Homo sapiens: one gene and its partner. The protein of the gene in region 2 purifies or fractionates together with the protein of the main gene of each other region. This does not show direct contact. Each region holds a gene or a part of one and is shown on either strand. Other genes may lie near its edges.

Region 1 (3,650 bases), on a different chromosome or scaffold from region 2:
GCGTGGGCTCTCTCCTGGTACTCTGGTTTCCTTTCACACAATAAAGATGTGCATGTTCACTTCAATGGTACGTCTGCATTGTCCCAGTGTGAGTGTGGGGGTGTGTGTGAGTGCTCCTCTGGTGGAATGGTATCCTGTCCAGGGCTGGCTTCTGCCTCATGCCCTAAGCTGCCAGGACAGGCTCCAACCACCTGTGACCCTGAACTGGAATGAGTAGATTAGAAAAAGAATAGATACAAATTATTGTAGAATTAAACTCATAAAATATCCAATAATCATACAGATGCATGACAGCAAACGATGTGGCATTAGTCATATGAGCCCCCCACATTGGTTATTGTTGGTTTTTGAACTGTGTGGTGGTAGGAGGTAGGACATTGATGTTCGCTTTGCAAACATTTATTCCTTGATTGAACCACCAACATCACGACCACTGTCACTCGCTGATTCACCAAAAGTTGGGTAAAGAATGACCTTGTTTATATTAATCTTTCTTAAATGTATGCATAGCTCACATACTTTTTAAAAGTTTTAATAACACCACTCCATTCTACAGGGTCCCAATGACTACTGCAGGGCATGTCACCTGGAGGCAACCATAGCTAAGGTGGCAGTGAGCAGGCTGCTGCTGCACCAGCCCTCCCCTGCTTGGGAGCACACAACAAGGAAGCAGTGCCAAGCCCTGCCTGGTCTGGCTTCAGGGCAGAGAGGCTCAAAGCTGCTCTAGAGCAATCATGTCTGGTCAGCTGACCACTCCCCGGCCCACTGTCCAGCGGGGACCCTCCCGTGCCACCCTCTAGGGAGGCTGCAGCAGACACGGGGCAAGGCAGGCGCTCTCACTGCACGAAAGGCAGGGGATGGACTCACGGTGTGAGCGTTGTTGATCTTCTTTACTTCCCATTGGCCTTCCCCGGTGTAAGTCAGCAGGGAGATGGCCCCATCCGAGCTCCCACAGGCCAGGATCAGGCCGTAGTCATGGGGGGCCCAGCACACCGAGTTCACTGCGGGAAGAGGGAGAGTGCAGTGAGCAAAGCAGGGAGACCGCGGCCCCAGGTCCCGCCTTCCACAGATTTACTGTTTTACTAAATGTCTACAACAAACAACTGTAGGAGTCACCGGGGGAAGCTGTAACTTGGTCAACTGAGGACACAAAAAAACCCCATCACCTACTAATACCACGATTTCATAACCTACAGTCTATCTAACAAAAAAGTGGGTAGGAAAACAATCTGAGAATGAAGGGTAGTCCTTGCAATGAATAATCCTGAAGAGAAACTCACCTGTCTTTTCTTATTTGCTTTGGACTGGCTTTAGGTCTTAGGGCCTTACTCAGCTGAGGACAGAGTAGCAGAAAAGCCAACCAAAGCTCAAGAGACAGACAAGAGGCACCACGAGGGGCAGGGAGCCAGGGCTCCAGCCGGGACAGAGTCCTTTTTTACCCAGTGGTCCCCTTGCCCGCTCTGCTGCCAAGCTCAGCATACCTGAGGAGTCGTGTCCCGCATGCTCGTGGCTCTTCTCCCAGGTGCCGTTTTCCTCTCTCCAGATAATGACTTTCCGGTCATAGGAGCACGATGCCAGGATGTTGCCGTACATGGGGTGAGCCCAGGCCACTTGCCACACAGGACCCTCATGACTACAAAGGGAGAGATAGGCCAGAGGAACCCACAGTGCCTCTGCAGGCACTACTTTGGACAGAACTAAATGGCTCCCTGAGACGATATATCAGGGCAGAATTGCTTAAGAACTTCAAAGGGAGAACTATACAATGCCATTGCAAAAGGGGTGCTCAGTGGACAGTGAGGAGCCTGAGGTCCTAAGAGGTTAAGCAACCTAAGGTCACAGAGCCTTTGAGAGAGAGTTGAGCCTCTGGGTCAGCCTTCCTGTCCTGGCCAGGCAGGAGCCTCACTTGCCCAGACTGCAGCCAGCACTGTCTGTATGTGCTGTCTACAGCATAGTCATTAATTGGTCCAAGGTTTCCAGCCAGAAGTGTTCAGGAAATATTTGTAGACTGAATTGCTATTCATCCTTCCCGACGGTCAGCTTCCTGAGGAGGCATTATTGGTTTCATTTTGATGTTTTCCACTACTCTTTTAATTTGTTCGAAAGGCATGTCTTTCCCTTCTCTTCTGATCTTTATCCATTCACCTGATAACAGGTGCTATCTGAGCACATGCTCTGTGCCAGGCTTTGTACGGTGACCATTTCTCTGGCCCAGGGAAGGTTTTGCACCTTAGCACTCAAGAGGTAGAGTAGCATGGTAGAGTTAGTGGTTAGGAGACCAGACCCATTCTCCCATTCACTAGCTCTTGACTTTAGGCAAGGATATCTTTGTCTCTTTACCTGAAAATGGAGACATCAATAAGAATTCTTTCATAAAGTTTGGAACAATGCTTGGTAGAAGGAAAGAAAAAAGCCACTCAATACCCATTAGCTATTAGTGCTGCTCCTGGTTTACTCCTTCACCGTGGGCTGCACACACTCAAGTCTCCTCCTCCCTCTGGCTGGGACAACAGGACATTCCCAGTCCCTACAAAGCTGCTGCTAATGAAACTGAGTAGACTCAATCTTCCAACAACTAGCACAGTTTTTACTAAGGGGAAAAAAGAATGGGGTGGGAATTTTTTTTATCCCTCCAATATTTCACATCCTTTGAATGTAAGAAAAACAGCAGAAAGGACAGAGTCACAGCAAACATAACTGCCTTGGCCAACACGCTGCACTGCAGCAGCTCTCTGCCTGCCTGGGGGGCTCCTGCATAGAGAAGCTTGATTTGGCTCCTCAGTCACTTGATCATTTGACACTCAGACAGAGGGGAGCTTCTAGGCCCATTTCCCCAAATGGACACTGACTTAGTTTATGCTTTTTAATTCAGTGAACAAACACATGCTGAGCACCCACCTGTCATGGCTCTTAATCTTTTCTGTGCATTCTGGGGAAGGTTATGGACCCTCATCAGACTAATGTACAAAACACACAGAACTAGGCTTATAAAGAAAATTCAATTATAAATTATACAGTAATCAACTTTTTTTTTTTGAGAAGGGTTTCACCCTGTCATCCAGGCTGCAGTGCAGTGGCACCATCGTGGCTCACTGCAGCCTCAAACTCCTAGGCTCAGGCCATCCTCCCACCTCAGCCTCCCAAAGTGTTAAGGATTACAGGCGTGAGCCACCTTGCCCAGCCTGTTATCAAAATATTATAAAGCAATTTATGAGATAGTGATGCATGTACTTCTTTGTTAACACTTCAAGCAACAAACCCTAGCGGCAGGTCTAATAACCACTGTAATTTCAAAGTTGTGATGAGCATAAGTGGTATTTTGAGGTAGCTAAGTAACCGTGATGTGTGATGACAATATCTGTGAATTCTACTGGTGACAAAGTGACAGGCACTACAAATACTACTGAAGTTTCTGGCCTACATCCATAATTGAAGGAAATGCTAAATATCAGAGTCACTGAAAATGCATTTTTTTCCCCCTGTCCCAATTCATCAACCCCTGAACTCTATTCACAGAACCCTTGGAGATCCACGGCACCCAGGCAAACCCACAAATACGTGAAAGGCAGTGAGCTGAGGGAAAGCAGTAGAGATGTGGCCATAAAAATGAGCCAGGACTTCCTCAAGAATCTCAGTAGGGAGCAGGGCAG
Region 2 (3,650 bases):
CTGTGTGGCCTTAGAAGGTAAAACAAAAAGTGGGTTAGATATTTTCAAGACAACAGATTTTAAGAGTAGGTCAAGATATTATCAAAAAGACAGATTCTGGCTCTATGTGAGGACATTCCCAACTCTACCAACTAAACAGGTATGGGCAAAAAAAACAAAGAAACAACACTGAAGTGAATGGCTGTGCAGGACTTCTGACTCAAAGAAGAGAGGTAAACAGCAACACTTTGTTATTACTAATCTGTGCATTTATACACGTTACTTTTTACAAGGTGCTTTCACACATCATTGGGCTAGCTGGTATTTTTACACAGGAGGAAGCTCACCCAGAGTCTTAGCTGTCAAATCACAACACTTTCTTTCTGTAACACTGTTCTTTCTAAAACAAAGCTAATGGAACATAAAGCAAATCTGTTAGAACCCCCATTTGCACTCCCCCAGGGTTCCAGGAACAATAAAGAAGAAGATACTAGTGAAAATGTGGTAAAAACGATGTTTGTGGAAGCAAAGGAAAAACTCCAAAAATAGAATAGCTTACCTTGTCCATAAATGATTGAAAGATGAAGTGAATAAAGGACAGGAACTCTTCGTCAACAAAAACCATGTTGATAGAAGAGTGAAAAATTAGAAATTATTGGTAACAAATTAAGAATAGCTGGAAACAGAATAAATACAGCTTGTGAGATTAGTTTTCCTTGTTCATACATGTATTCAACAGTTATTATTAGAACACTTAGTATGTCTTGGCACTGTGCTAGGCTCTAGGGTTACAGCAAGAAACAATGTATAGGCCAGGTGTGGTGGCTAACACCTGTAATCCCAGCACTTTGGGAGGCTGAGGCCAGTGGATCACCTGAGGTAGAAGTTCGAGACCAGGCTAACATGGCAAAACCCTGTCTCTACTGAAAATACAAAAATTAACTGGGTGTGGTGGCACGTGCTTATAGTCCCAGCTACTGAGGAGCCTGAGGCAAGAGAATCACTTGAACCAAGAGGCGGAGGTTGCAGTGAGCCAAGATGGCACTGCTGCACTCCAGCCTGGGTGACAGAGCGAGACTCCATTTCAAAAAAAAAAAAAGAAAAGAAACAATATGTAGACATGGCCTCCACCTCGCTGGATCTTCAGACTTATACAGGAAACAAACATTAAAGTATACAAATTCTTTTTTTTTTGAGATGGAGAGATGGATGGAGTCTTGCTCTGTTGCCCAGGCTGGAGTGCAGTGGTGCAATCTTGGCTCACTGCAGCCTCCACCTCCTGGGTTCAAGCGATTCTCCTGCCTCGGTCCCCTAAGTAGCTGGGACTACAGATGTGCTCCACTATGCCCGGCTAATTTTTGTATGTTTTGGTAGAGGTGGGGTTTCGCCACATTGGCCAGGCTGGTCTCGAGCTCCTGGCCTCAGGTCATCCACCCACCCCGGCCTCCCAAAGTGCTGGGATTACAGGTGTGAGCCACTACGCCCGGCCCCTACAAATTCTTAATTATAAACTCTGGCAGGTGTCATGAAGAAAAAATACAGAGTGCTGTGTGAATGCCCAACATAGGACCCTAACTTAGTGCAGACAGTCATGGAAAGGTTCATTTATTAAACCTAGATTTGCCGTGATTTTAGTCCTAGAAGATGAGGTGACCACGTGCCCAACTCTGTCCTTATAGTGCTGACCCACAACCATGTGCTCTTCCCCTTTTAACCCTGGCCTTACGTGGGCCAAAACGCTTTTCCTTGGTTTTTCCTTGCATAGCTGAAACAGGCTGGCATTTGAAAACAAAAAGTATTTAGTACCAAAGAACAAAAGGAAAGTAGTGTTGACACTAGTGTTAAGGTGATCTCATCTTGAGAAAAGTTGTACTAATTATGATTAGTTTTAAATGTCCAGTTTGCCGTGCTTAGAACATATAGCGAGAGGGGAAGAGGTGGTGGTGGGGAGAAAAAACCATAGCGAATTCACTTATTTAGAGAAATGTTATTGAACATCCTATGTGCCAGGCACTGCACTGGGCTCTGGAGACAGAGTGATAAACAAATGACTGCTGAATTAGGATAGCCTTCCTATTCTGATAATGCTCTGAGCCCCAAACCATCCCTTAACAAAAAAATTCTTTTTTAAAACTCCAGTAAGTCTCTTGTACATGCTTTTTTAGATAAGAACTTTGGCAGTATCCAGCATAGTCAACACATAATATCCCACCCACACTAGCTAAGTCAAACCTGAAGGAGAGGTTGCCTGGTTTAGTATCCCACCCTAAAACCAAGGATCAGAGAAAGAAAGGGTGAGTAATTGCTGTGATTTCCTTCTTTGCCAATAAATAGACCCCTTTTCTGTTTTTAGGAGCATGGCGATAAGAGTGTACAATTTGATGGGACTTTTCGATGGGGTGTGGTAGTCAGGAATAACTATCTACTTTTTGTAGCTAACTTAGAAATCATTTTGCAGTAGGTTGGGTGCGGTGGCTCACGCCTGTAATCCCAGCACTTTGGGAGGTGGAGGCGGGCAGATCACAAGGTCAGGAGTTCGAGACCAGCCTGGCCAATATGGTGAACCACCATCTCTATTAAAAATACAAAAAATAGCCAGGCATGGTGGCATGCCCCTGTAGTCCCAGCTACTCAGGAGGCTGAGGTGGGAGAATCGCTTGAACTGAGAAGGCGGAAGTTGCAGTGAGCCGAGATTGCGCCACTACACTCCAGCCTAGGCGACAGAGCGAGACTCCGTCTCAAAAAAAAAAAAGAAAAAAATCATTTTGCAGCGTATTGGTTTCCAATGCTACTTTAATCATCCTTGATACCTTCCTTTTTGTTACTTTCCTCCTATGTCCTGACTTATAATTAATCACCAGTTCTTTTCTGTCCTATCCTAAAGATCCCTTGAAATACAACTAAGTTCACTGTTTAGTTCAGCTGACTTTTTGTTTTCCATAATAAGACTTTCACCGTGAAAGATAGTGGTGGTTTTGCATCCTGGCATTATCTCATCAAGACCCAGTCTCACACAGTTCACAGAATGGCTACTTTGAGTAGCTCTAGTCTAAGCCACTGTCATCTCCCCTAGTTGTTAGTCTGCGGTGGGAGGGTGCTTTCTAAATCACACAGTAGCCAGAGGGAATTTTTTTTTTTTTTTTTTTTTTGAGACGGAGTCTCGCTAGGCTGGAGTGCAGTGGCGTGATCTCGACTCACTGCAAGCTCCGCCTCCCGGGTTCACGCCATTCTCCTGCGTCAGCCTCCTGAGTAGCTGGGACTACAGGCACCCGCCACCACACCCAGCTAATTTTTTGTATTTTTAGTAGAGACGGGGTTTCGCTGTGTTAGCCAGGGTGGTCTCGATCTCCTGACCTCGTGAACCGCCTGCCTTGGCCTCCCAAAGTGCTGGGATTACAGACGTGAGCCATGGTGCCCGGCCACCAGAGGGAATTTTTTTTAATGCAGATATAATGTTACTGTCTTGTGGAATTCCTTTAGTAGCTTAAACTCACTCAAAGGATGAATCCAAAATCCTAGCCAGGACCTGTCTCAACACAGTGTTGGAAAGCAGTGTAACAGAGAGTAGTATCTCCCAAGGTGTAATTTCATTTTATTATTATTTTTATTTATTTTTTGAGACAGAATCTTGCTGTTTTGCCCAGGCTGGAGTGCAGTGGTGTGATCATAGC

Evidence for each region. The genes of interacting proteins can lie anywhere in the genome.
Region 1: the proteins of SZT2 (region 2) and SEC13 purify together in Homo sapiens (affinity purification with western blotting; one study listed by BioGRID and IntAct). This does not show direct contact.

What each region holds. Positions count from the first base shown.
Region 1 is NC_000003.12:10,311,098-10,314,747, forward strand, and holds part of SEC13 (protein SEC13 homolog), read right to left. Parts: intron 1,634-3,650; coding exon 1,482-1,633; intron 1,002-1,481; coding exon 868-1,001; coding exon of another isoform or gene 733-867; exon of another isoform or gene 479-732; intron 1-478. UniProt on the Homo sapiens protein: Functions as a component of the nuclear pore complex (NPC) and the COPII coat. At the endoplasmic reticulum, SEC13 is involved in the biogenesis of COPII-coated vesicles.
Region 2 is NC_000001.11:43,396,361-43,400,010, forward strand, and holds part of SZT2 (KICSTOR complex protein SZT2), read left to right. Parts: intron 1-3,650.